Regions from separate parts of the Homo sapiens genome. Here regions 1 and 3 are each linked to region 2. Evidence: fine-mapped expression QTL. A gene starts in region 2. Each other region holds a variant in brackets. All regions are shown on one strand. Distances are between the middles of the regions. Region 1 overlaps OR2T12 (olfactory receptor family 2 subfamily T member 12). Region 2 holds the start of TRIM58 (tripartite motif containing 58). Region 3 overlaps TRIM58 (tripartite motif containing 58).

The links. PIP is the estimated chance that this variant, and not a neighbour inherited with it, causes the effect.
Region 1: its variant is the best candidate, but not a certain one, in a credible set for the expression of TRIM58 in whole blood (TOPMed, PIP 0.50).
Region 3: its variant is the best candidate, but not a certain one, in a credible set for the expression of TRIM58 in testis (GTEx, PIP 0.56).

The regions. Positions count from the first base shown.
Region 1 is chr1:248,293,182-248,301,344 of GRCh38, reverse strand. OR2T12 (olfactory receptor family 2 subfamily T member 12) reads left to right here. Exons shown (of 3, transcript NM_001004692.2): 3 at 5,759-8,163. The coding sequence starts at 5,767. The coding sequence ends at 6,729. Among named protein-coding and RNA genes, the nearest start is that of OR2T12, 6.2 kb to the left of the region's middle. The variant C/T (reference allele first, on the strand shown) is at 4,028.
Region 2 is chr1:247,853,900-247,862,086 of GRCh38, reverse strand. TRIM58 (tripartite motif containing 58) reads right to left here and starts at 4,900. Exons shown (of 6, transcript NM_015431.4): 1 at 4,421-4,900; 2 at 1,375-1,470. The coding sequence starts at 4,840. RefSeq lists a cis regulatory region at 6,423-6,987.
Region 3 is chr1:247,879,463-247,887,649 of GRCh38, reverse strand. TRIM58 (tripartite motif containing 58) reads right to left here. Exons shown (of 6, transcript NM_015431.4): 6 at 7,512-8,187. Among named protein-coding and RNA genes, the nearest start is that of OR2W3, 12 kb to the left of the region's middle. The variant G/C (reference allele first, on the strand shown) is at 4,055.

The DNA.
Region 1 (8,163 bases), 440 kb before region 2:
CTTACTTAGAAGGAATGTCAAATTTCTCGTTAGAAACAACATTATTTTTCTTTATAGAATTTTATTGAATAAATGTTCACATGGATCTTAATATAGAAGGCATAGGGCAATCTAGTGCTCAGTATTTTCAATTTTATCACTTATAAACTGTTATAAATTTGTGATATATCTTGCCACATTCTCTGTGACAGGATGAAATCAATGAAGTCAATTTTAGCATGTGGGTATGAAGGGAATTTTGAGGCAATGAAGGGAGGTGAAAAAATACAACACAAATAAGAGTGCATTTATATAAATTCAGCCTAAACTAATGTGATGGAGACAATTCAGAGGGATATGTAGATTTACATTTGTAATCAATTTTGTTTTAATGCTGCATCATTCAATGGAATGTAAAACATATGGTAGAAATGTCTAAGTGATCAAGTAGAATTAATCACCATTTTATCTCAACTTAGTGACTTGGAAGTAGTGTTTCCCAAATGTAAAGAACACTTTGCCAACTGAAAAAGAAGCATAGGGAGAAGCGAACTTGACCACATAGCTTCCTTCTTGCAAGGAAGCTCATAGCAAGACTCACTTAAAGACAAATTATGGTGGAAATCTGAGGTAATACCGTTTTATTTGGATAAATTGTGTATTACAACAGTTGACAAGATCCAGATAACTGGGACAGCTATGGTATGATGGTCAAAATAGGTGGTTCCATAAAGTAAGTTGAGATGAGTTATTTTCTTGAAGTGAATTCCGCTCATAAGCACTGGAAATTATTGAGGCAATACAATGTATTTTCCCAATTTTCCTTAAAAGCCCACCTCTTCTTGAGGTTAACACAATGGCACCCTGAGGTGGGAAACCCACAACACTAAAGATCCCAGAAATGCCCATTTCTCATTCTCAAGACATTGACTGAACCTAGATCTCAGATACCAATAATCAGGTTTATCCAAGTTCTTGATTTGTTTTAAAACCAGAAAGGGAGGAGGTTGAGACCTGTTTCTCTCTTCATGATGATTGACAAAAATGATTTGCCTACTATCATGTGATCGAAGACACAAATTTAATCTCCATTTCTAGTATTGTGCTGGTCACATGCTGACTGAAGCTGAATTTCTCTATCAATTTATCTGTAAAAGACTTCTGATGTTATAGGAACTATCTGTTTGCTTTGGAGACATATTCTTTTTGGAAAAACTCGATCACATATTAGACATCGTTTTTCTATTTTTTTAATTTTATTATTATTATACTTTAAGTTTTAGGGTACATGTGCACAATGTGCACATGCTATTAATTTCCCTCTACATACTGCTTTGAATGTGTCCCAGAGATCCTGGTATATTGTGTCTTTGTTCTTGTTGGTTTCAAAGAACATCTTTATTTCTGCCTTCATTTCGTTATGTACCCAGTAGTCATTCAGGAGCAGGTTGTTCAGTTTCCATGTAGTTGGGCGGTTTTGAGTGAGTTTCTTAATCCTGCGTTCTAGTTTGATTGCACCGTGGTCTGAGAGACAGTTTGTTATAATTTCTGTTCTTTTAGATTTGCGGAGGAGAGCTTTACTTCCAACTATGTGGTCAATTTTGGAATAGGTGTGGTGTGGTGCTGAAAAAAATGTATATTCTGTTGATTTGGGGTGGAGAGTTCTGTAGATGTCTATTAGGTCCGCTTGGTGCAGAGCTGAGTTCAATTCCTGGGTATCCTTGTTAAATTTCTGTCTCGTTGATCTGTCTAATGTTGACAGTGGGTGTTGAAGTCTTCCATTATTATTGTGTGGGAGTCTAAGTCTGTTTGTAGGTCACTCAGGATTTGCTTTATGAATCTGGATGCTCCTGTATTGGGTGCATATATATTTAGGATAGTTAGCTCTTCTTGTTGAATTCATCCCTTTACCATTATGTGATGGCCTTCTTTGTCTCTTTTGATCTTTGTTGGTTTAAAGTCTGTTTTATCAGAGACTAGGATTGCAACCCCTGCCTTTTTTTGTTTTCCATTTGCTTGGTAGATCTTCCTCCATCCTTTTATTTTGAGCCTATGTGTGTCTCTGCACGTGAGACGGGTTTCCTGAACACAGCACACTGATGGGTCTTGACTCTTTATCCAATGTGCCAGTCTGTGTCTTTTAATTGGAGCATTTAGCCCATTTACATTTAAAGTTAATATTGTTATGTGTGAATTTGATCCTGTCATTATGATGTTAGCTGGTTATTTTGCTCGTTAGTTGATGCAGTTTCCTCCTAGCCTTGATGGTCTTTACAATTTGGCATGATTTTGTGGTGGCTGGTACCCGTTGTTCCTTTCCATGTTTAGTGCTTCCTTCAGGAGCTCTTTTAGGGCAGGCCTGGTGGTGACAAAATCTGTCAGCATTTGCTTGTCTGTAAAGTATTTTATTTCTCCTTCACTTATGAAGCTTAGTTTGGCTAGATATGAAATTCTGGGTTGAAAATTCAAAAGCTAGCAGAAGGCAAGAAATAACTAAAATCAGAGCAGAACTGAAGGAAATAGAGGCACAAAAAACCCTTCAAAAAATTAATGAATCCAGGAGCTGGTTTTTTGAAAGGATCAACAAAATTGATAGACCGCTAGCATGACTAATAAAGAAAAAAAGAGAGAAGAATCAAATAGACGCAATAAAAAATGATAAAGGGGATATCACCACCGATCCCACAGAAATACAAACTACCATCAGAGAATACTACAAACACCTCTACGCAAATAAACTAGAAAATCTAGAAGAAATGGATAAATTCCTCGACACATACACCCTCCCAAGACTAAACCAGGAAGAAGTTGAATCTCTGAATAGACCAATAACAGGAGCTGAAATTGTGGCAATAATCAATAGCTTACCCACCAAAAAGAGTCCAGGACCAGAAGGATTCACAGGCAAATTCTACCAGAGGTACAAGGAGGAACTTGTACCATTCCTTCTGAAACTATTCCAATCAACAGAAAAAGAGGGAATCCTCCCTAACTCATTTTATGAGGCCAGCATCATCCTGATACCAAAGCCGGGCAGAGACACAACCAAAAAAGAGAATTTTAGACCAATACCCTTGATGAACATTGATGCAAAAATCCTCAATAAAATACTGGCAAACCAAATCCAGCAACTCATCAAAAAGCTTATCCACCATGATCAAGTGGGCTTCATCGCTGGGATGCAAGGCTGGTTCAATATAAGCAAATCAATAAATGTAATCCAGCATATAAACAGAGCCAAAGACAAAAACCACATGATTATGTCAATAGATGCAGAAAAGGCCTTTGACAAATTTCAACAACGCTTCACGCTAAAAACTCTCAATAAATTAGGTATTGATGGGACATATCTCAAAATAATAAGAGCTATCTATGACAAACCCACAGCCAATATCATACTGAATGGGCAAAAACTGGAAGCATTCCCTTTGAAAACTGGCACAAGACAGGGATGCCCTCTCTCACCACTCCTATTCAACATAGTGTTGGAAGTTCTGGCCAGGGCAATTAGGCAGGACAAGGAAATAAAGGGTATTCAATTAGGAAAAGAGGAAGTCAAATTGTCCCTGTTTGCGGATGACATGATTGTATATCTAGAAAACCCCATTGTCTCAGCCCAAAATCTCCTTAAGCTGATAAGCAACTTCAGCAAAGTCTCAGGATACAAAATCAATGTACAAAAATCACAAGCATTCTTATACACCAATAACAGACAGAGAGCCAAATCATGAGTAAACTCCCATTCACAATTGCTTCAAAGAGAATAAAATACCTAGGAATCCAAGTTACAAGGGACGTGAAGGACCTCTTTAAGGAGAACTGCAAACCACTGCTCAATGAAATAAAAGAGGTTACAAACAAATGGAAGAACATTCCATGCTCATGGGTAGGAAGAATCAATATCGTGAAAATGGCCATACTGCCCAAGGTAATTTATAGATTCAATGCCATCCCCATCAAGGTACCAATGACTTTCTTCACAGAATTGGAAAAAACTACTTTAAAGTTCATATGGAACCAAAAAAGAGCCCACATCACCAAGTCAATC[C/T]TAAGCGAAAAGAACAAAGCTGGAGGCATCACGCTACCTGACTTCAAACTATACTACAAGGCTACAGTAACCAAAACAGCAAGGTACTGGTACCAAAACAGAGATATAGATCAATGGAACAGAACAGAGCCCTCAGAAATAACGCTGCATATCTACAACTATCTGATCTTTGACCAACCTGAGAAAAACAAGCAATGGGGAGAGGATTCCCTATTTAATAAATGGTGCTGGGAAAACTGGCTAGCCATATGTAGAAAGCTGAAGCTGGATCCCTTCCTTACACCTTATACAAAAATCAATTCAAGATGGATTAAAGACTTAAACGTTAGACCTAAAACCATAAAAACCCTAGAAGAAAACCTAGGCGTTACCATTGAGGACATAGGCACGGGCAAGGACTTCATGTCTAAAACACCAAAAGCAATGGCAACAAAAGACAAAATTGACAAATGGGATCTAAGTAAACTAAAGAGCTTCTGCACAGCAAAAGAAACTACCATCAGAGTGACAGGCAACCCACAAAATGGGAGAAAATTTTCGCAACCTGCTCATCTGACAAAGGGCTAATATCCAGAATCTACAATGAACTCAAACAAATTTACGAGAAAAAACAAACAACCCCATCAAAAAGTGGGCGAAGGACATGAACAGACACTTCTCAAAAGAAGACATTTATGCAGCCAAAAAACACATGAAAAAATGCTCACCATCACTGGCCATCAGAGAAATGCAAATCAAAACCACAATGAGATATCATCTCACACCAGTTAGAATGGCAATCATTAAAAAGTCAGGAAACAACAGGTGCTGGAGAGGATGTGGAGAAATAGGAACACTTTTACACTGTTGGTGGGGCTGTAAACTCGTTCAACCATTGTGGAAGTTAGTGTGGCAATTCCTCAGGGATCTAGAACTAGAAATACCATTTGACCCAGCCATCCCATTACTGGGTATATACCCAAAGGTCTATAAATCATGGTGCTATAAAGAAACATGCACACATATGTTTATTGCGGCACTATTCACAATAGCAAAGACTTGGAACCAACCCAAATGTCCAACAATGATAGACTGGATTAAGAAAATGTGGCACATATACACCATGGAATACTATGCAGCCATAAAAAAGGATGAGTTCATGTCCTTTGTAGAGACATGGATGAAATTGGAAATCATCATTCTCAGTAAACTATTGCAAGGACAAAAAACCAAACACCGGGTATTCTCACTCATAGGTGGGAACTGAACAATGAGAACACATGGACACAGGAAGGGGAACATCACACTCTCGGGACTGTTGTGGGGTTGGGGGAGGGGGGAGGGATAGCACTGGGAGATACACCTAATGCTAGATGAGGAGTTAGTGGGTGCAGCGCACCAGCATGTCACATGTATACATATGTAACTAACCTGCACATTGTGCACATGTACCCTAAAACTTAAAGTATAATTAAAAAAATAACAAAACTAAAAAAAAAATTTTTATTCATTTTGATCTGTAAATATACTCCTGTTTGTAGTACATGATCTCAGTTAGAACATTAAAAAGTTGAGCTATAGAGAAGTGAATGCCAGGTCAGGAAAAGCTGTGCCTACTGGGAGTCAGGGCTTTGAATCACGACCTGGGATAACATATCCAGTACATATGTCCAGAAACTGTGCAGTCAAACAGTTATTCAGACCATAAAAGCCTCTTCTTTCTCTATTTTTCCATTTGCACCATCACACCAGGGGAAATTATGGAGATGAGAAATACTACCCCAGATTTTATTCTCCTAGGACTCTTTAACCACACCAGAGCCCACCAAGTCCTCTTCATGATGCTTCTGGCCACCGTTTTGACCTCCCTGTTTAGCAATGCCCTCATGATTCTCCTGATTCACTGGGACCACCGGCTCCACAGGCCCATGTACTTCCTCCTGAGCCAACTTTCCCTCATGGACATGATGCTGGTTTCCACCACTGTGCCCAAAATGGCGGCTGACTACTTGACCGGAAATAAGGCCATCTCCCGCGCTGGCTGTGGTGTGCAGATCTTCTTCCTCCCCACACTGGGTGGTGGAGAGTGCTTCCTCTTAGCAGCCATGGCCTATGACCGCTATGCGGCTGTCTGCCACCCACTCCGATATCCCACTCTCATGAGCTGGCAGCTGTGCCTGAGGATGACCATGTCGTCCTGGCTCCTGGGTGCAGCTGACGGCCTCCTGCAGGCTGTTGCTACCCTGAGCTTCCCATATTGCGGTGCACACGAGATCGATCACTTCTTCTGCGAGGCCCCCGTGTTGGTGCGTTTGGCTTGTGCTGACACTTCAGTCTTCGAAAACGCCATGTACATCTGCTGTGTGTTAATGCTCCTGGTCCCCTTTTCCCTCATCCTGTCCTCCTATGGTCTCATCCTCGCTGCTGTTCTGCTCATGCGCTCTACAGAAGCCCGCAAGAAGGCCTTTGCCACCTGCTCTTCACATGTGGCTGTGGTGGGACTCTTTTATGGAGCTGGCATTTTTACCTATATGAGACCCAAATCCCACAGGTCCACTAACCACGATAAGGTTGTGTCAGCCTTCTATACTATGTTCACCCCTTTACTAAATCCCCTCATCTACAGTGTGAGGAACAGTGAGGTCAAGGAAGCCCTGAAACGGTGGCTGGGGACGTGTGTAAACCTAAAACACCAGCAAAATGAGGCCCACAGGTCAAGATGATCTAGTGTCAGATGAGTCTAAGTTCCTGAATTTATTAACATTTTAACACTATGTAATTCTCTCCCTTTAGTAATTCATGAAGAGAAAATTAAGTTTGTGTATTGATATAATAAGATATTTTTAAGAATGAAGTGAGCCAATTGTATTGACAGATACCATTTTTGAGCATTTATGTACTTTTCTTCAAGTGAAGTAATACCTATAGATTACTTTGTATCCTACAACAACCCCATGATATAAGTTTTCTTTTTTTCTTTTGCAAACTCCAAATCTTTAAAAGGTGTCCCAAATTTTTCATCAAAAATATCTCTACTTACCTATGCCTTGGGAGAAGTAAGGTAACCCAATAATGTATAAGGTTGTTGAGTGTTACTCAATTTCCTACTATCTGAAAAAAGAAATTAACACATGGAAAGTTAAATATGGTTCCTAATTTCACATAGAACAGAAATATTAAAAAGTGACTCCAAAGCTTGTACCCTAACCTGGAAGAGTTTATTTCTGTTCAATAATGTATTTTGAGTGTTATTTCCCATGTGTATGCTCTACAATTAAAAACTAAATATGAGGACTCCACCAAAGACAAATAACATTATTTTTAAGTTATATTTTAAAATATAGATGCATGACAAAAGGGGAAGTACACAACTCAAATGTAACTGCTATATTGTCACAATCTTTTTTTATTTTTTCCAGTCTCTTTTTATTTGGTGTTTTAAGGCAAACTTTTTTAAATTCATGTAATTTTTTATATAAGTAATATTTATCTTTTCCAAGAGCGTCATTGTAATTGCATTGGAAAATTGTTTTAAACTACAAATAAGTTCTCTTTTCTACACGTGCTTTAAGGTTACCTTGACTTATTGACATACCTCCATCGATATGAACTCTGAATTGCATGATCATGCTGAATCTTGACAGTTACTAACAATGAGTTATCAAAGCTGAGTAAGACTCAACAACCTTATACATTATTGGGTTACCTTACTTCTCCCAAGGCATAGGTAAGTAGAGATATTTCTGATGAAAAATTTGGGACACATTTTAAAGATTTGGAGTTTGCAGAAGAATAAAAGAAGACTATACTATTATTAAAGACACAAGATAGATAGTGATGGAGGAAAGCAGTGGTTATCAAAGCCAAATTGTAATCAGAGACTGGATATCAAATTGTCTTAGAGAGTTTTATGATAAAGGCTATATTTCCCATATGTAAAACACACTTAAGAAATAATATAAGTTTTTAACACGAAGGAGGAAATAACTAAGAGCTTCCAGGGACAATGTATCTTCAATATAAGTGTCTGAAAGTTAACCCGCCATTTCAGACCAACCTGAATTTCAAAAGGTAACTGTTCTAGAACAAGTGAAAGGAGTTTCCTGCTTCATCTAGATCTTCAGGTTCCAAAGCAGTAATATAGTTAAGATAGTACC
Region 2 (8,187 bases):
GCACGATCTCAGCTCACCACAACCTCTGCCTCCTAGGTTCAAGCAATTCTCCTGCCTCAGCCTCCCGAGTAGCTGGGATTATAGGCATGTGCCACCACGCCTGGCTAATTTTTTTTTGTATTTTTAGTAGAGACGGGGTTTCTCCGTGTTGGTCAGGCTGGTCTCGAACTCCTGACCTCAGGTGATCCACCTGCTTCGGCTTCCCAAAGTGCTGAGATTACAGGTGTGAGCCACCACGCCTGGCCTTAATGTACATGTTTCTTCTGGGATAAGTGTTATCTTTTCCTATCCGTATATATCTATATTGTAATCTAGTAATGTAGTAAATAAAGAAAAATATAGTTTAAAAAGTCTTTATGTAATATCTGTATAAAGACAGAGTATAAGACTAAATTTTCAAAGAAAACAAGAAGGAAATAATTATAAATATATAGAGTGATCAGAAAAGAAGGGTTATTTGGAAAAGGAGAAAGAATAGGAATATTCTGCAAAGTATAACCTATTATATATCATATTATATAATACATTATATGAATATATAGAACTATACACACAGTTTCTATACGTAGTTTCTCAATCTTGACACTACTGACATCTTGAACAGATCATTTTTTCCTCACAAGATATGGGAACTGTCCTGTGGACTACAGGGTGTTAAGCTGCATTCCTGCCTCTACTAGATGACAGGTGCACTGCACCCACCCCTCCTCAGTTGTGACATCCAAAAATATCATCTCCAGAAATTGCAAAATGTTATCTTGGGGGGCAGGTATCGCCTCAGGTTGAGAATCACTGTGTGTGTGTGTGTATGTGAATCACTGTGTGTGTATGAATCACTGTGTGTGTGTGTACACGTGTGCACGCACATGTGCATGAATGAAACATGGAATAAAAAGAGCTAGTGAGGTATAAAAAAATGGAATATGTGTATGTATAGATGATAGAAAAAAAAGGCTAAACGTTCAGATTATTACCCTGTATATAAGATGATCACCTTGGGCTACACTTCTTCTGTTACAAAGTTGTGAAATATTCATTATTTCATTCACCTAACAAATATTTTCAAACTGGTAGCAACAGTATAAGATGCTATTCTAGGTGACAGGGATACAGCAGTGGGTTTTACAGGAAGATCAAACTAGCAAAGCTATTTAATTATAATTTGGATTGGGTGATGGCAGTAGAGACAAAAAGAACAAAAATGAACCATATCATTTGAGGGGACGGGATGACCCAGGATGGCTCTGAGGTGCTCTTGGGCATATATGGAGATGGAACAAAAGTGCTGGAGAATGGAAGATGGTAGAAGAATTACTGACCCGAATCTGGATCCTTCAAACAGGCAAGCCTCCTAAAGCCCCAACATGGTCTTACCTTCCAAATGACAGTCTTTTTCCCCACGTTGGCCTCCTGAGTCAAGGCGTCCTCCAACTCTTTCCTCATAAGTTCCAGAGCCATCTGGAGCTTTACCTGTTTGGGAACATTTCAGCTGTTACAGATGCCCTCAATCTGTACCTAACGTCACACAGATGTGTGAGGAAATACAAAAGTCAACTTAAACAGTCCCTAGAAAGCACATAAAAATGTTCAATATCATTAAAAACTAAACATAAATGTACTTAAGTTTTAGTGTCAGGGTCTCGCTCTGTCACTCAGGTTGTGCAGTGTTGCGATCATGGCTCACTGCAGCCTCAAACTCCTGGGATCAAATGATCCTCCCACCTCAGCCTCCCAAGCAGCTAGGACTCCAGGCACACATCATTACATTCAGCTAATTTTGTTTTCTGTAGAGATGGGGTCTTACTATATTGCCCAGGCTGGTGTCAAACTGCTGGCCTCCAGAGAGTCTCCCATCTTGGCCTTCCAAAGTGCTGGGATTATAGGCATGAGCCACTGGGCCTAGCTCCTTAAATGTATTTTAATACCAGATACAATCAAATATTTATCTAAAAGTATGCTCACTGCATTGTTATATACGATAGCATAACTAAACTAAAACATTAAAGATAGGGGAGAAAAAAATTATATTAACTGGATAGAATTAAAATAAGATGTTACAGAATGTTTAATGACTAGAAATACAATGATAATGTCCAATGAATAAAAATATTTTACAAAACAACATGAATTTTGAAAAAAAATGTGCTGGTAATGAATATATTAAAACTGGGCTGATGTAAATGAGAATGATATTAGATAAAATGTCATCTATTGGTGTTTGGATGAAGAGTGATGCTATTATATCTCTATATTTCATATATTTCTCTATATAACTATATTTATACATTTCTCTATATTTATATATTTCTCTATATAACTGTATTCTGTATTTCTCTATATAACTTCAACTTCTTGAAGTTATTGGTTACTTTATGATAAAGCATGGGTTTATTATTGTAGTATTAGTAGTATTATTAGGTCAGAAGGAACTTGGTAGGTTATCATATTTTATATGAAAAAACACAGTATGTTGTAAACCTTGCAATGAGTAAAAATACAATGAGAACTAAATCTTCCTTCAATGATAGGGCGCTCACTAGAGGTAAATATGTGTATTTTAAATACTCACAAAGATACATACATAAACAGGATTTTAATTAAAAAATTATATTCCCAAAGTTACTCAATAAATCCTACATACACATCAATTGTTTTTAAAAGGAGAATATTATAATTGTTATATATAAAATAACAGTAGAATTCATGATACCATTTGACTCAGTGGGGAAAGTGGCATGTGTTTTGGTGTTTACAAAGAACGGAGCACTTTGACACTTGTAGATAAAGAAAAGCTCCCTCAGGCCAAAGAAACTGTCAGCAAAAGCAAGGAGATGTAGCACAGTTAGGAAAACAGTGATTCGGCTAAATTTGCTGGGTTTCCTGGCTGGTTAAGACAAGAGAGCTATGGAAACATAACTTAGGGCCCTAGAAAGCTTTCACTGAGAGGCTCAGGAGTTTAGATAATATTTATTTGGTATTTAACCGAAGAACTACTGAAAATATGGAGAACACCTTTAGAAATATTACACTAGAGGCTGGGCTGCCTGTAACACCAGCACTTTGGGAGGCCACGGCGGATGGATCACAAGGTCAGGAGTTCAAGACCAGCCTGGCCAACACAGTGAAACCCCGTCTCTACTAAAAATACAAAAATTAGCCGGGTGTGGTGACGCATACCTGTAATCCCAGCTACCCGGGAGGCTGAGGCAGGAGAATTGCTTGCACCAGGACCCGGGAGACGGAGGTTGCAATGAGCCGAGATTGCGCCACTGCCCTCCAGCCTGAGCTACAGAACTAGACTCCGTCTCAAAAAAAAAAAAAAAAAAAAAAAAAAGTTACTACCAATCCTCTTTCTGGACTTTTTTTAAAAAGGCAAGAACATTCCAGAAAAGTTTAGCTAGAAATTACCTAGTACTAGTACCTACATCTCGCAAATGACAACGAAAATCAAGAAGAAATACCAAGAGAGATATTGGTAGAGAAGGAAGGGGAAAATATCCTAAACCTTAATTTAAAACAAACAAAATAAATAAATAAAAATTTTAAGAAAGTATTTGCAATGCACTACAGCGCGACTGACAGTCCTTTGGTTAAATCTGTCAGTAAAGACGACTTAGACCTCCTCTGTGCTGGCAGTTGTTCTACATGCTGGGATTCAAGTGTGTTCAGAAAACATCCAAGAACTTTTGAAGGGCACCAGTAGGAAGAAATCGACACACAATTTCACAGATGCCACTCTGGGGACCAAATACTCCCATTTTGTTTTTCTTCTTTCTCTTTGAAGCTTCCCGGGCTACACCCCAAATGAAGCACCTCTTCATTGAGGATGTTCGAATCCTAAGTCCCCAAATCCCTGCTGATGGAGAGCCACCCGCTCCTACTTCAGGAGGCACGTGCACCTGAGCTTTGGAGGGGTCGGAACCCGTACCCAGCTCGACACTCTTCTTAACAACGCCCAAACCCGAGGGTTGCTTTGCTGACAACACTCATTTAATGTAAACACTGTGCAAAAGCAAAGCATTGCACAAATGAGAATTATTATGGCAAGTTTACGATATAGACGTACAATTGTTACCAAGAATGAACTGGACCACACAGCCCTCCCGACCAGAGCCCAGCTGAGGGACCAGACTATCCGCATCGGGAGAAACCAGCCCAGCGCGAGTTCGACGACAGGAGAGTGCTTGGGGGAGGGGCGGACGGTGTAAAATAATGGGTGTGTGTCGCAAAGGGGGTTACCACAGCCAAGGCAAAGAGACCCACACTGAGTGAGCCGCGTGGGCGGGGGGGACGGCGCGCGGTGGGGGGAGCGGCCGTGGGAGCCGCTCAGGAGACGGGTGGCCTCGGCGGCTCCGCTCCGGACTGTCGCCCGCTTCCCGGTCACCGCAGCGCCCGCAGCCCCCGCCGGGGGGCGCCTCACCTGGTAGCTGCCGGCGGCCTCCTGCAGCGGCGCCGTGCGGTGCGTCCTGTGCTCGGGGCCGGCGTCGCACACCCAGCACAGCGCCGCCTCGTCCTCCTCGCAGAAGCGGCTCAGGTCCTCGCCGTGCCGCGCGCATCGCCGCGCCCCGGGCCCCGCGCCCAACCCCAGCCGCCGCACGCTCTCCACCAGGCCCGCCAGCTGCCGGTTGGGGCGAAAGCCCGAGGGCCGGAAGGGGCCCCGGCACTGCGGACAGGCGTAGACGCCGCCCTGCGCGCCGTCCGACTTCTCGCAGAACTCGGAGATGCACCTGAGGCAGAAGCTGTGGCCGCAGTCCACGCTGACCGGCTCCTGCAGGAAATCCAGGCACACCGGGCACCGCGCATCCTCGCGCAGCCGCTCCCCGGGCGGCGCCCAGGCCATGACCCGCCTCCCGGAGGGCTGCGCTCCCGGCCGCCCGCACCGTCTCCCCTCGCGGTCTGCACAGGGGGAGGAGCCCACGCCCCAGGAAAGCAGGCGCCGACGGGTGGTGTCCGCTGGCTTCAGTTCAAGAGCTCAGACGAGCCACACCCGGTGAAAAGCCACCACTCAGGCGCTCCCTATGTCGGGGATAAAATTAACGTTGTGGTTCCCCGCCCCCGTCACACACACACCCAGGAAACTGGGCATTTCTAACTGGAATCCCTCCTCATATGCTATTTTCACTGGCAGTAGATCTGGAGAATTGCTAAATTCCCTCCTTCCTTCCATCTTTGTTTGTTTGTTTTTGTTTTTGTTTTTTTGAGAGGGAGTCTCGCTCTGTCGCCCAGGCTGGAGTGCGGTGGCGCGATCTCGGCTCACTGCAGCCTCCGCCTCCCGGGTTCAAGCGATTCTCCTGCCTCAGCCTCGCAAGCAGCAGGGATTACAGGCGCCCGCCACCATGCCCGGCTAATTTTTGTATTTTTAGTAGAGACGGGGTTTCACCATTTTGGTCAGCCTGGTCTTGAACTCGTGACCTCAGGTGATCTGCCCGCCTCGACCTCCCAGAGTGCTGGGATTACAGGCGCGAGCCACCGCGCCCAGCCTCCATCATCATTATATAGATTTAGTGCAGATTTCTGGGGTACCAGTGCAGTTTTGTTACATGGAGACACTGCATAAAGTCTAGGCTTTAGCGCAGGCATCGCTGTGATAGCGTAAATTGTTCTCATTAGGTGATCTCTCATCCCTCGCCCGCCTTCCACCCTCCGAGCCCCTTCCATTGTTACTGAGCTACTCCATGGTCCTCTCATGCCATAATCGTTTCTTAAAAGGCTTTCCCCCTTTATATGGCATAATCAATTTTTAAATGTTTTTTTCAAACTTCATTTTTTTCTCTTGCACTAATTACCTCTTGATAAAGAAATGAGACACCGCCTGACACGGGAAGATGCCTGCATAGGTGTGTGTAACTATAGGTTTACAGCCCAGCCAAAAATAATTCTAAATATTTAAATAAATATCTGGCCTAGTTCAATGAGGATCCTACAAGGAATACACACATGTTGTAGGATTGTTGCAAAGCCAGTCTTGGAGATGACAAAGCTATAGAGATACTCATCAGAGGAATAATTCAAGCTTAGCCTCTCAGTGGTGTACCTGTCAGATGGGGGAGGCTGAGACAGGAGCAAAATGATTTGACAGAGTATGTTACTTCATCCAGTGGAAGGCTGAATCAGGATAAAGTACATTAAAGTCTCTAATGTCGTCCAGAAAGTCGACAAGTCTGAGGCAGTGTCTGCATCTGTGCAAAATAACTTTAGTATGGTCGAGTTTGAAGTGATGGTGGGGTGTACCTGTGGCAAATCAATCTGTCCCTGAGCACACATTGTGTCTGTTTGTAGCCAGGAGTCTCAGACATTGCACCGGGTACTGAAAATACACATGTTAAGGAAAAGAGGTGGGACCCCATTTCTCCAGGAGCCTTAAGATCAACTAGAAGAGGTGGATATGAAATCATGCAAACATATAATTACAAACCAATAACTGCAAGGAAGGTCGCTCACCAGTCCTGCAGGAATATAACAGAGGACTCTGAATGAGGCTGCAGGGTCGGGGGCAGACACCTGAGGTCTCTGAGCAAACCTCTGATAGGTGAACACAAGCTGGCCAGCGGGAAGGGGGGCTCCGCAAGGCCGTGCCCCCAGAAGCCATGAAAGGTACAAGGTAAACTTCAGCAGGTGGGAGCAAGACATACCCAGATGACAGTGAGAAGCCAGGCAGGCTGGCAAGCTGGGCCAGAATATGGTGGCAGCAGATAAGGCTGCAGCAAGAGGCGGGGCCAGATGACTCAGGTCCTTGGGGATCCTCTGGGGTTTGTGGGTCTTCATTATAAGGACAAACTCTTGGGCTGGATCTCTGGCGACAGGCAGAGCAGAGGATCTTGAGGCCTAAAGGTTAAGTGCGCAATTAAAGCGAATAGATTCTTGGAGAACACACATGGATCTGTATTAGCAAAACACGAAAGATGTGGCATTAGAGAAAAAAGCTAAAGAGCAGAAGGCTTAGCAAAGAAAAACAGACTCTGGCTCCGGACTAAGGGCTGTGGCACTTGCTGAGAAGCTTGAGGCAAGCTGTGCCGCGTTTCTGCCCTGCATTTCTTCTGACGTGCAGTGAAGAGGTGTTAGTGTCATTCATATAAGGCCTTTCAGAGTATTAAACGAGCTAATAGATAGTAGACACTTAATATAGGTCCTGGCATGTTGGAAATACACACACACACACACACACACACACACACACACGTATATATATTGAGACAGGGTCTTGCTCTGCTGCCCAGGCTATAGTGTAGTGCCACAACCTGACTCACTGTAGCCTCTACCTTTCAGGCTCAAGTGATCTTCTCACCTCAGCCTCCCAAGTACCTGCGACTACAGGTGCCCGCCACCACGCCCAGCTAATTTTTGTATTTTTTGTAGAGACAGAGTTTCGCCCTGTTGCCCAGGCTGGTCTCAAACTCCTGGGTTCAAACAATCTCCCCACCTTGGCCTCCCAAAGTGCTGGGATTACAAGTGTGAGCCACCTCGCCCGGCCATGTAGCAAATATATTTAATTGAAGAAAAGGAAATGAAATAGTGAAGTGAATGGAAGGATGGTGAGTCAAAAGGTAAGCTACATTAGGAAGAGAGATTTTTTTCTATTTTGTTCACTGCTCTATCTATCCCCAGGACCTTGAAGAGTAACTGGCACAAATGGACACTCCACACATACTAACTGATTAAACAAGTTAATAAGTAAATGAACAGAATTAGGACAGTTTATCATAGGAGCTAATGAAAGAGGGAAGTTCAAAGATGATTATATTATGTCAAATGTCAAATCCATGTTTTTCTGCATTTTACATATATGATCTTGCCCTGGCTCTCCATAACTCTGGCAGATGCTGGAGCATTTTTCTATTTTGCAGGCATAACGAGACACAGTAAAACAATCCATTTACTCAAATATATGGGCCAGTTGATAACTAGGCTCACTTAAATTCAGATTTCCTAGTGCCTGTGATCCTAAGGAAAGGCCCCTGGCTTCTGACGTTGGGGGTCACTGTGGTTTTCAGTAGGGTGTGACGGAGTGGGCGAGCTCACTTCTTCCCCTGCTGGTCCTAGAGTTGCTGAGCTTAAACTGTTTTGTCTCTGACACTGGTTGACTAGGAATGACATCGGTACCATTGTTCTTAGAAACACACATTTCCCTTACAGCACGTCCATGCAGGTAAGTTGTGGACTGGATTATATCCAGATGTCATTGTATTT
Region 3 (8,187 bases), 26 kb before region 2:
CAATTATCTTGAATAAGTATACATCATAAGCCAAGTTGCAATTCTCGAAAGTTAAAAAGCAAAACATAGATAAATTGTATTACCTATTTAGAAAAATTTACACTCTAAGAAACACTTTTGGCCAGGTGCGGTGGCTCATGCCTGTAATCCCAGCCCTTTGGGAGGCCAAGGTGGGTGGATCACCTGAGGTCAGGAGTTCACAACTAGCCTGGCCAACACAGTGAAAGCCCTTCTCTACTAAACATACAAAAATTACATAGGTGTGGTGGTGCACACCTGTAATCCCAGCTACTCGGGAGGTTGAGGCAGAAGAATAGCGTGAACCCGGGAGGCGGAGGTTGCAGTGAGCCGAGATCGTGTCACTGCACTCCAGCTTGGGTGACAGAGTAAGACTCTGTCTCAAAAACAAAACAAAACAAAACAAAAAGAAACACTACTAGCAAAGTCTAAAAAATAATAACAATAGTAGAAAAATTCAACAAGACAACTGAAGGCTACCTTACTTAATTTTTTTCTCAAAAAAGTGGCAAGAAAAACCTGTAGTAAAAGAAAAATATGTAATGACTTGAAGAAACAGTTCACAGGAAAATGCATGATTTACAAGCAAGTGATATAAACATTAGAAATGTTTTCACTGATGATTGAGGTTATAAAAATTTAAATATAAAGATATTTGCTTTTCCAGATAGGTAAATAGTGAAAAGTGTGGTAATATCCAGAGCTTGAAAAAATGTGGGAAATAAGTCCAATCTCATAAACTTTTTTTTTTTTTTTTGAGACAGAGTCTCACTGTATCACTCAGGCTGGAGTGCAGTGGTGTGATCTGGGCTCACTGCAGCCTCATCCTCCCAGGTTCTCCTGCCTCAGCCTCCCAAGTAGCTGAGATTACAGGCATGTGCCACCACACCCAGCTAATTTTTGTATATTTAGTTGAGATGGGGTTTTGCCATGTTGCCCAGGCTGGTCTTGAACTCCTGATCTCAAGCGATCCACCCATCTTGGACTCCCAAAGTGCCAGGATTACAGGTATGAGCCATCATGCCTGGCCTCATGAACTCTTGATAAGAGTCAAAATTGAAATAGTATCTTTGGAGAGATCTTAAAAAAATGACTATTTAAATACACATATACCTTGACATAGTACATATTATTTTAACAAAAGAAATATCTGTCTTTCATAAAATGTTAAATGACATGCTTTTCTCATTGCCCTGTTAATTCCACATCTAGGAATCTGCTTTGCATTTATTAACCCTCAATCAGTAAACACATACTCTCAAAAACTTCATTATAGCATCTACTGAAATAGATAATACTGGGAAACAAGGTATGTTAAAGTGATAGACATGATTTAATAGACGACTGGAAACAATCACTAAATTGGAATGACATTACCCAGAATTTTGTCCAAAAAAAAGATATTAATATCAAACAAGTAGAAAGCTAACTATACTGGGTGCGGTGCCTCACGCCTGTAATCCCAGCACTTTGGGAGGCTGAGGAGGGTGGATCACGAGGTCAGGAGTTCGAGACCAGCCTGGCCAGGATGGTGAAACCCCATCTCTACTAAAATATACAAAAATTAGCCAGGCATGGTGGCACATGCTTGTAACCCCAGCTACTTAGGAGGCTGAGGCAGGAGAATCGCTTGAACCCGGGAGGCGGAGGTTGCAGTGAGGCAAGATCGCACCACTGCACTCCAGCCTGGTGACGGAGCGAGACTCCATCTCAAAAAACAAAAAAAAAAAGAAAGAAAGCTAAATATAATGTATAGTGAGATTATATGTAGTGTGACTCCATTTTTTGTTCACAAACTCTCACTATACAAACACAAATACACACGGTACGTATATATGTATACAGGCACATGTTGCAGAACAACACATTTTGGTCAACAACAAATTACATCTGTGGTGGTTTCACCTCCTCAAGAGGAGTCTGAGGCAGGTCCTTCAGGCAGTATCGTAGAAGGCATTGTGATCATAGGAGGTGACAGCTCCATGCATGTGGCTGCCCCGGAAATCCTTCCAGTGGGACAAGGTGTAGAGGTGGAAGACAGTGGTACTGATCATTCTGTCTCAGTGGACACCCAGGCTAATGTGTTTGCTTGTGTCTTAGTTTGCAATGAAAAAGTTTGAAAAGTGAAAAAAAAAAAAAAATAGAATATAACTTGTAGAATAAGAATAAAAAGGAAGTATTTAATACAGTTTTACAATGTGTGTTTTAAGCTAAGTGCTATTACAAAAAAAGTCACAAAGTTAATAAAAAGTAAAAGGTTTACAATGTAAAAATGTTTCCATAAACTAAGGATAGTTTCTAATTGAAGAAAGAAAAATACTTTTTAATGCATTTAATATAGACTAAGTGTACAAAGTTGATAAAGTCTGTAGTCATGTACACGACTGTCCTGGCTCTTCACATTCAGTCACCACCCACTCACTGACTCACCCAGAGCAACTTCCAGTCCTGCAAGCTCCATTCATGGTAAATGCCCTAGACAGGTTACCATTTTCTGTATTTTATACAGTATTTTTACTGTGCCTTTTCTATATTTAGATACACATATACTTACCACGGAGTGACAGCTGTCTTCAGTATTCACTACAGTACCATGCTGTACTCGTCTGTAGCCTAGGAGTGACAAGCTATCCCAGACACTTATGGCCCAGGATTGTGGTAGGATACACCATCTGGGTTTGTGTAAGTACATGCTGTGATGCTCACACAACGACAACATCACCTAACGACGCCTTTCTCAGAACACATCCCCATCGTTAAGCAACGCATGACTGTATTTGTATTCAAACAGAACTGATATCTGGACGTACGGTTTGAAATTGTTGAAAAGGCTCATTTCTAGCTTGGGCAACATGGGGAGACACCATCTGTACAAAAGTCAAAATTAAACCTTAGCCCGGCACGGTCGCACAAAGGTGTGGTCCCAGCTACTCAAGAGACTGAGGTACGGGGGTCAATGGGCCCAGGAGGTCGAGGCTGCAGTGAGCTGTGATCATGCCACTGGCACCTCAGCCTGGGCGACAGAGTGAGACCCTGTCCTCCCCGACCCCCGCCAAAAAGAGACTCACTTTTAGAAAGTGAAGTGGAGGTTAAAGAAGACTCTCATTAGAACGGGCACGGTGGCTCACGCCTGTAATCCCAGCACTTTGGGAGGCTGAGGCAGGTGGATCACCTGAGGTTGGGAGTTCGAGGTCAGCCTGACCAACATGGAAAACCCCATCTCTACTAAAAATACAAAAAAAAAAGAAATTAGTCGTGCGTGGTGGCGTATGCCTGTAATCCCAGCTACTCGGGAGGCTGAGGCAGGAGAATCACTAGCACCCGAGAGGCGGAGGTTATAGTGAGCCGAGACCACCCCATTGTACACCAGCCCGGGAGACAGAGCGAAACACTGTCTCAAACATAATAATAATAATAATAGTAATAATAATAATTTTGCATTGGTAGATGTAGTGCTTTGTTATAATTAAACGACTTGTGATATAAGTGCTGTCTGTGTATGTCTTTGTGTGTTGGTGTGTCTGTCATAATTTTTTTTTTTTTTTTGAGACTGAGTTTCGCTCTGTCGCCCAGGCTGGAGTGCAGGGGCGCGATCTCGGCTCACTGCAAGCTCTGCCTCCCGGGTTCACGCCATTCTCCTGCCTCAGCCTCCCAAGTAGCTGGGACTACAGGCGCCCACCACCATGCCCGGCTAATTTTTTTGTATTTTTAGTAGAGACGGGGTTTCACCGTGTTAGCCAGGATGGTCTCGATCTCCTGACCTCGTGATCCGCCCGCCTCGGCCTCCCAAAGTGCTGGGATTACAGTCGTGAGCCGCCACGCCCGGCCTGTCATAATTTATAAATGTTCTAAGAGCAAGGAGTATGTTCTTCAGATTTTTTTAACCCTTGAGGCACTCCCTATGACTTATTCATTTAACAAACCAACCTAGACGTGCAGACCTCTGAGCTGAGTTCCTCAATCCAGAAACCTGCTCACCATTTTCACTTGCATGCTGCTAGGCAACACTGAAAGAATGCAGGAACACAGACATAGC[G/C]AGAGGGCCTCAGCCAGGTCACGAAATGCCTTCTACCCTCTTGGGCGCACACAGGTGCTGTAGCCAGGCGTAAGGAAATCCAAGTGCCTCTCTCAGGCTTGGCCCATTCCTTATAAATGCAATGGCCCACAGTATTGGTGAACAGGGGTTTCTTGCAATTACGCAGTGTTGCAGCTCCGCTGAGGGAAGACTGGAGACGGACCCTGATGGCAGCCTGGGTTCATCAGCAGCCCAAAGCGCTGGGGAAACTTCAGACCCACAGGGATCACCAGCACATCCACTGAGGCAGAGGCGCGCACCACATCAAATTGCCCAATCTCCCGTCAGGTCCAGAGAGAAAATGAGCACCATGAGAATTTGTCCCTTGATATAAAAAGAATTTACTACCTCACATAAGTAAAATTAGGGGACTCAATTCATTGCTGTTCTAAAACCATAAATACCAATGAGCCATTTGCTCCCCTCCCCTGTTCCCAACAATCATTATACGGCTAAGAAAACAGCTGAGGCATAATTGGTCCCATGCTACCTAGAACAGAATCATGCATTTTGTTTTTTCTCTCTCGTTTTATCTGCTGAAAATAGGGCCAAAATATTTTGACATCTTCTTTTTACTAATATTTTTGTGTATGAAAGAGAAAGAACCCATTGTCCTACATAGTGAAAAAAATCACATAAAGTGTATTATTACATTAAGGAGCTACAGCATGGCCTGTTCTATTTTTATTTATTTATTTATTTTGAGACGGAGTTTTGCTCTTTTGCCCAGGCTGGAGTGAAGTGGTGCAATCTCTGCTCACTGTGACTTGCAACCTCCATCCCCCCAGGTTCAAGCAATTCTCCTGCCTCAGCCTCCCTAGTACCTGGGATTATAGGCACCCGCCATCACGCCTGGCTAATTTTTGTATTTTTAGTAGAGATGAGGTTTTACCATGTTGGCCAGGCTGGTCTTGAACCCCTGACCTCAGGTGATCCACGCCCGTTGGCCTCCCAAAGTGCTGGGATTACAGGTGTGAGCCACTGCGCCCAGCCTTATTTTTACTTTTTGGTTTGAAAGGAAGATGTTAGCATACATAGGTTTATAGTTTCAAAAACTGATAAGGAAATTGAGCAAGTATCATGACTTAGGTATGTATATGTAACTATGTTTTCAATGCTCTTATAAAGGCAAAAATGACATCGCAATGCTGAATTTTTTAAAGAAAATAAATATACAGAAATAGCCAAGCAATGTCAGAAAAAAAATCAGACTTAGAGTCAATTAACTAAGAAACTTATCAATATGACTGGGTACTTTTGGGTAGATGTAGTCAGAGAATTAGAGAGTAAAGAGACTATTCTACATGGTGTAGAATTCATAGAATATGTGTGGTACACATACGCAGGCCCTGACGTCCTTTCTTCCTCCCTGTGTGATAGAAAAGCAGACCACAGGGGGCCCCAGCAGCACAGAGAAAGCAAGTACCAAGGAGTCAGTGCTTGGAGGGCAGACAGGTTGAACAGATCCCAGTGTTCCCAATTCTCTGCGTTCTGGGGTTCTAGGGGTTGCAATCACCACTCTAAGTGCTTTCCATTACTTTTGCTGGCTAAAGAGGTTATTTCACTTCCCACTCCTGATTGCTCCCTGTATCCCCTCCTCCCAGTCCTCTTCACTCAGGGCCTTCTCAACATGCTAGAAAAATTAGTCTAAGGCCGGGTGCAGTGGCCCACACCTGTAATCCCAGCACTTTGGGAGGCTGAGGCAGGCGGATCACCTGAGGTCAGGAGTTCAAGACCACTAGCCTGGCCAACATGGCGAAACCCCGTCTCTACTAAAAACACAAAAATTAGCTGGGTGTGGTGGCGGGCGCCTGTAGTCCCAGCTACTCAGGAGGCTGAGGCAGGAGAATCACTTGAACCCGGGAGGCAAAGCTTACAGTGAGCCAAGATCATGCCACTGTACTCCAGCCTGAGTGACAGAGTGAGACTCCATCTCAAAAAAAAAAAGCTTAGTAAATTGATAAACCAGTCACCTGATTTGGAGAAGGGGTCATGAGGGTATGTTGGCCTGTTCTCACACTGCTATAAATATCTGAAACTGGAAAACTTATGAAGAAAACAGGTTTAGTTGGCTCACGGTTCCACAGGCCGTGCAGGAAGCAAGGCAGCATCTGCTTCCAGGAGGCCTCAGGGAGCTTTTACTCATGGCAGAAGGCAAAGCAGGAACTGGTGTCTTGCGTGGCAAGAGCAGGGGCAAGAGAAAGTTGCAGAGCCACACACTTTTAAACAACCAGATTTCACAACTTATCCAAGGGGGATGGTGTTAGACCATGAGAAACTGCCCCCATGATCCAATCACCTCCCACCAGGCCCACCTCCAACACTGGGGATTATAACTGAGCATGAGATTTGGGTGGGGGCACAAAGCCAAACCATATCGGGGGGTATTAAGCAAATTACTTCTTTGAATAAATTATCCACACTTCTGGATATGTAGACATAGTTCTGGAGGGTTATAGCTTAGAAAAGGCTAGAAGCTCATGTTGGGGATTGACTTTCTCTTTTAGTTTTCTATTTTTTAAGGGAGAGGGTCTCACTCTGTCACTCAGGCCAGAGTGCAGTGGCGTGATCCTGGCTCACTGCAGACTTGAAATCCTGGGCTCAAGCCATCTTCCCGCCTCAGCCTTCCAAGTGGCTGGGACTACAGGTTTGCACCACCATATCTGGCTAATTTGTATTTTTTTTGTAGGAACCAGGTCTTGCTTTGTTGCCCAGCTGGTCTCAAACTTCTGGTCTCGAGCAATCCTCCCACCGCAGTCTCCCCAAGTGTTGGGATTACAGGCATGAGCCACTGTGCTCTACCAGAGTTGATGTTCAAATTTTTATAGAGAACGAAAGAATTTCACTGGTAACTGTCAGAGCAGTCCTTAAGGATATGTCAGAAAGAAAAAAAATTATGATTTGAGATAGAAAAAATGCCAAATGTATATAACAGAAATGCACAGTAACAGGGAAGCGACGGGAAGGACAGCAGACCCAAGACACTCCATTTCTGGATGGCGTGGATGCACCATATCGTTTAGGTGAAGAAAGGCAACATAAAACATTAACATCAATTTTTTTTTTTAAAGGTTGTAGTCTATGTAAGTTTATAGAAAGTTCCCCATATTTTTAGTGATGATACCATTTTGAGAGGTGGCTTATGGAGTATGAGACAAAGCATAATTCAAAGGTGTCACTGTGATGTCACAGGGAATCAAAACCACAGGGGGCTCAATGGGACTAGGCCTGGACATGCCAAGTTATCAGGTCACAAAATCCATTATGTTTACAAACTTAAGACTTCTGCTCAATTTTTCTCTATATCCCCAAAATTTTACTAATTTAGCACTTGGCATTAAACATTATTGGCCAATAATAATAAATATTGTATCAGTAGACTATATTACATTTTGCAAAACATTTTCAGGTCCATCAATTTTGCTCTCCACATAGTCAATCATTTATTCATTCAACAAATACAGATTGAATGATAACCACATACAAACCAGCATTGGGGGTGCTTGAGAAACATTGAATGTATCATTGTCAACAGACAAAGATACCTCCCCTTGTGGTGTTTACATTTAGCACAAAAAGGCAAAACATACATAAATTAAATAAGCCTAACAATATAGTACGACGACACGTACTGTATGGGGAACAAAGAGCCTCCACTGAGCCTGGCAAGGGCGACTGGAAAGGTGAGCTCTAGATGGGCTCTGGGGGGAGTAGGGCTGTGTGGTATCACTGAGAAGCTGGATCTCAGAAGAGTTAAGGAAGAAAGGGAATAATGAGTCAAGGGGATATCAGGGAAAAGGGAATGTCAAGCAGAAGCCACAGGCGGGGAAATGGCCCTGTGATGGGAAGTGCCTGCTTTGGTGGAAACCCAGCCATGAGGCCAGGGCAGCTGGAGCAGAATGCAAAGGGAAGTGGGGGTGGGAGAGATAATCAGAGGAGGGATGGGGGTTCAGATCCTCTAGGGCCTGGGGGTTCACATCCTCTAGGGCCTGGGGATTCACTGTGAGGATTCTGACTTTCACTCTAAGTTGAATGGGAGGTCTTTGTGATGGTATCTAAGTCACTGTGATGCCAACATATCCTTGGGTGCTAAA